Regions from separate parts of the Homo sapiens genome. Here region 2 is linked to region 1. A link means that fine-mapping ties the variant in region 1 to the expression of a gene that starts in the linked region. Tissue or cell type: minor salivary gland. Region 1 holds a variant in brackets; the other region holds the start of a gene. All regions are shown on one strand. Distances are from middle to middle.

What was found. PIP is the estimated chance that this variant, and not a neighbour inherited with it, causes the effect.
Region 2: RFWD3 starts here. The variant in region 1 is fine-mapped to the expression of RFWD3 in minor salivary gland (GTEx, PIP 0.97).

What each region holds. Positions count from the first base shown.
Region 1 is chr16:74,039,209-74,041,968 of GRCh38, forward strand. No RefSeq gene overlaps it. Among named protein-coding and RNA genes, the nearest start is that of PSMD7-DT, 170 kb to the right of the region's middle. The variant T/C (reference allele first, on the strand shown) is at 1,158.
Region 2 is chr16:74,665,255-74,667,884 of GRCh38, forward strand. RFWD3 (ring finger and WD repeat domain 3) reads right to left here and starts at 1,623. Exons shown (of 13, transcript NM_018124.4): 1 at 1,532-1,623. It also overlaps the pseudogene TMPOP2. RefSeq lists a silencer at 1,153-1,302.

The DNA of each region.
Region 1 (2,760 bases):
AACTACTTATTATGAATTGGAATTCTTTCAATATGGGAATTAAAAAAAAAAAAACTAGAAAAATCAGTCACTTGCTACAGATGACCTCAAACTGCAACGGACATGCATCTCCAATTATAAATTTAAAGTTCTAAAATCAGCTTAACCTAATATATTATGACTTTTTGGCAGGAGAAATAGGTGTTATTTGGATTTTTTTTTTTTTTTTTTTTTGAGACAGAGTCTTGCTCTGTCGCCCAGGCTGGAGCGCATTGGCATGACCTTGGCTCACTGCAACCTCTGCCTCCCAGGTTCAAGCGATTCTCGTGCCTCAGTCTCCCGAGTAGCTGAGGAAATAAATTTTTTGAAGTTTAAAAGTAAGTGAGGAGCAAGACACAGCAAAGACACAAGGGAAAATTTCACAGAAAAACAGCAAAGGATAAAAGCCATCACTTCACATTTGAAAACAAAGTTTTTGCTTTTCATTATATTTGGCCTCAAGTGATTTTTATTGTGTTTTTCCCCTAATTTTCATGGCAAAGGAATTGAATAAGAAATATATGGATTAGTATTGTGTGCTAGCAATAGTCTTCTTGGTTTAGGTCATTCAAAAATCAGCTGGGAACCCTGTGGAAAATCAGCTGGGAACTCTATGTTTAGGCTGAGAAGGGAGGACTGGAAAGAGATTGTGATACAAGAATGCAAATATCCACTTATTCCACTGGCTGTCCAAAGGCAATAGACAGAAAAGCAGCCCAAGTCAGCTAGAATCTTTTTTGCACCTCTGCATGAGACACCTTAGTAGGCTTCAGCCATTGTCCTGAGGCCACAGTGGAATCCTAGGGTACAACTCTGAAGCCTCCCCAGCTTACCTTCTGCATCAGTTAGGAAAATTTTGGCTTTGGGTAATAGAAAACATAATTCAAACCATATGGGCATTTATTATCACAGTGTTTTAGGCAGGGCAGCCTTCAAGTTCCTCCTCTTCCTCTTAAGGTTGCCTTCTCCCATGTGTTGACATTAGCCCAAGACTGATCACAAGATGACTACAATGGTTTCAAACACAGCATCCAGACCCAACAATGGCCAGTGAATAAAGGACCTCCTATCTTTCCCCTCCTCTAACAGTGAAGAAACCTTTTCAAGAAACCCCTCAAGAAACTTCAATGTATCTCTTT[T/C]TGGTGGGGGTACAGCATTCAATTCACAGCACAATTTTTTCAGCAAGATTTTCCTCCTGCCTCAATTACATCACGTGTCTCTGTCTAGAACAGTCATGAGCAAGAGGAATGCTCTGTGATTGACTTGGATTCACTGGGACCCCCTAGCAGGGGATGGGCCTAGCATCCTCTGAAGCATAGAGCCATGCGTAGGAAGATGTTAGAAAACCGGAAGAACTGCATTTTCTGGTGGGAAGAAGAAAGGAGGGGATGACTGTTGGGGTGAGGCTGCTGTCAGGAAGCTAGAGAACAACCTTAGTAGTGTTGCTCTGGCTGTTCACGTGGTGACAAACCATTTGGACTGGGAGTGAGCCCTGGTAAAAGGCCATCCACTTCTACAAGGAAATTCTTGTTGAGATAACCATACTCACAAAATTATTAACAGAGGCAATTATTTCTCCTATAACCATGTATGTGTTCATGTGTTGCCTGAGCTTTTTTTTTTTTTTTGTCATTTTAAGAGTTAATCGTCATTTGATAGATATCGTCCCATCTCCAATTTGAGTAGATCCTTCTTTCAGATCTCATACCACTTTCTTGTTACCTTTAGTAGATATTTATTTATGTCTGCCTTTTTATTTGTAGTTCTATTTATCTTCATTGAGAGTTCACCTTTACTATTCCAAAGAACAGTAAGCATGACTTATTAATGATCCCCTCATCCATTCATTATTATACTTGACATAATGTCTAATACTTGTATGAATGAACTAAATGAAAAGAGATATGAAGCTTGCAATGTATAAAGTTCTAATTCGTTGCACTTCCATCCTCTTTTTACCTATCATTTCTTAATGTTTGGAATTCACATGACATATCCATTTCACACTATTACTGTTTCAGTCATTCAAGTTATGGAGATCCTATCCTGTTATATGGTATTTTTTTTCACTTCCAAGAAGATAGCCCTAGCAGAAATGCTCACAAAGATATATAAAGATGTTCACAAAAGCATTATTTATAATAGCAAAAAAATGGAAACAACTCAATATACAACAATCAGATTGCCTAGATAAATGATACATCCATTCTGTGGAAAATAACTACTAAAAAGTTATGGTTTTGATTAATAATAAAAGGCTCATAGTAAATTCTTAAAGTGAAAAAATAACATATATAGTAGAATCCAAATCTAACGAAAAGAAAATAACACGATAAAAAAATGGGAGGCTCTTCTAGCCAAGATAGCAGATTGAGGTGAGGTATAAAGTCTCTCTTCCCCCTTTAAACACATCTAGAAAGCCTAAATAAAATTTAAGGAAGATTTTCAAAGCCCATAGCTGGACTCGAAAATAAGAAAAATACATTTATAGGGGCCACAAAAATAAGCCTTTGTGTCCTTCAGAAGAAGTAGTGGAGGCAGATTTTAGCATAGACACGGAAAATCAAGATGACAAACCCTGGCCAGGCGCTGCAGCTCACGCCTGTAATCCCAGCACTCTGGGAGGCCGAGGCGGGCAGATCACGAGGTCAGGAGATCGAGACCATCCTGGCTAACACGGTGAAACCCCGTCTCTACTAAAAATACAAAATTAGCCGGGCGTGGTGGCGGGCGGCTGTAGTC
Region 2 (2,630 bases), 630 kb after region 1:
TGGGCAACACAGTGAAATTCCCATCTCTACCAAAAAAGAAAAATAGAACAGGTCAGGCGCGGTGGCTCACACCTGTAATCCCAGCACTTTGGGAAGCCGAGGGCAGACCACTTGAGGTCGGAGTCCCAGAATGGCCAATATGGTGAAACCCCGTCTCCACTAAAAATACAAAAACTACCCGGGTGTGGTGGCGCATGCCTGTAATCCCAGCTACTTGGGAGGCTGAGGCAGGAGAATCGCTTGAACCCGGGAGGCAGAGGTTGCAGTGAGCCGAGATCGCACCACTGCACTCCAGCAGGGGCAACAAAGCGAGACTCTATCTCAAAAAAAGAAAGAAAAAAGAAAAATAAAACAATGAGCCGGGCGTGGTGGCGCGCACCTGTGGTCCCAGCTATTGCGGGAAGCCGAGGTGGGAGGATCCCTGGGGCCCGGGAGTTCGAGACTGCAGTGAGCTCTTCCAGCCTGGGTGCAACAGGGAGACTTTTCTTTCTTTCTTTCTTTCTTTTTTTGAGATGGAGTTTCACTCTTGTTGCCCAGGCTGGAGTGCAATGGCGTGATCTCAGCTCACTGCAACCTCGGCCTCCCGGGTTCAAGCGATTCTCCTGCCTCAGCCTCCCGAGTAGCTGGGAAATGGGGTTTCTCCATGTTGGTCAGGCTGGTCTCGAACTCCTGGCCTCAGGTGATCCGACTGCCTCGGCCTCCCAAAGTGCTGGGATTACAGGCCTGAGCCACCGCTTTTCTCTTTATAACACCTTTTTCTCTTTATAACAGGAAAAAGGGAGGAAGAGAGAGGGAGAGGGAGAGGCGGAGGGGGAAGAGGAGGGAGAGGGAGACGGGAGGGGAAGGGAGAGAGGGAAAGAAGGAAATTAAATCCCTGTTCTTTTACTACATGGGGAAAGAAAGACATAGATAGATTAGATAGACAGATTAGATAGATAGATAGATAGATAGATAGATAGATAGATAGATTGATTAGATACATAGATATTAAATCCCTGTTCTTTTACTACATGGGGAAACTTTGGGCGGGTTTCCTAAACTCGGCTCAACTTGTTCTCCTGTAAAACAGGGATAATACAAGTCTTTACTCCACAGTTTCCGTGATGAAATTAAAAATGAAGTTCTTCCATCAACTTTAAAGTGATGAAGTAATCGGCGCTCAGAGCGGGCGCAGGCAACGCCGCTGAGGAGCCCGAGGCTAGGCTCTCGGGGGAAGGGCCGGGCGACCTCCCACCCCGGCCAGGGCAGGCCCCGCAGCAGCGAACTCGGCTCCTTCAGTGATCGCCCCGAGCTCTCGCCTGCCCAGCCCCCACGCCCAGCAACCCAGATACGCGCGGGGGTTCGGGCTCCTTAGCCCCGACCACTGGCGCCGCCCCGAGGGCCCGAATCCCCTCAGGCCGCCGGGTTCCAAGCCCGCGTGCAGCCCACCTCGTGGGGTGTCTCCTGAATCCCAATCCAGGAATCAGGCGTGGGGAGGTTTATCCCGAAGCTAGAGGCCCAAGGCCTGAGGAGAAGCAACACCCCTCCTCACCTGAAACCAGCAGGCCGCGGCCGGGCTCGCGAGCCCGCCGAAGACTCGGTAGTTACCTCGGCCGCACTCCGAATGCACCTACGCCAACTGCCACTTCCGGAGCCGCTCAAGCTCCCGCCAGAGCCGCCGGCAGGCATGCTCCTATTGGACAGAAGCCCTACGCTGTGGCCAATACCCACTCTTCTTCTTCAATGGGTCCCCCGATAGCTGAAGCAGCGGTGCTCTCATTGGCTGGTAGTTCGTCCTGACGAGGCGGGACCGCGCTTGAGGAAGCCTCCTACAATTGGCAGGAATCTACGTCCGTCACCTTGCACCCGCCCCGGAAAAAATGGGAGGTTTTTTTGTTTTTTTTTTGTTTGGTTTTTTTTTTTTTTTTTAGCGCGTTTTATTTGAACTTTCTGGCGGGAGAAAGTTATATGATTTCTCGGTCCATTTTGGAATGGGGATGATGATATTAAAACTGACTCCTGCTGCTTATCCCTAACGCTTTAGTGAAGGAGTTATCTGTATCCAAAGGATAGCAGCTAATCGAATAATTTCAAAATATTTCAATATTTTGAATTTCGGAGCCTGTAAAGAGGCGTAGGACAGTCCAGTTCATATGTATCCTCTCATGGGGTTGAAGAGCTCACGCAAAATACTTTGCCTACATAATCTCTTCAATCTCAAACCGCTGCAAGGGATCTGAGCTACTGAACAGTCTCAAATCACTTGTTAGGGCCGCCGCTCGCCGCCAGCGCCAAAAGAAAGGGGCCCCCGGAATTCTCCAGCTACGTACGAGGAGCGCGAGCCCACAGCCGTCTCGGCTCCGAGCCCGCCGCCGGCAGGAAAGCCACAAAGAAAACTGATAAACCCAGACAAGATGATAAAGACGATCTAGATGTAACAGAACTCACTAATGAAGATCCTTTGGATCAGCTTGTGAAATACGGAGTGAATTGTGGTCCTATTGTGGGAACAACCAGGAAGCTGTATGAGAAATAGCTTTTGAAACTGAGGGAGCAAGGAACAGAATCAAGATCGTCTCCTTCAGCAACAATTTCTTCTTCAGCAGAAAATACAAGGCAGAATGGAAGTAATGATTCTGACAGATATGGTG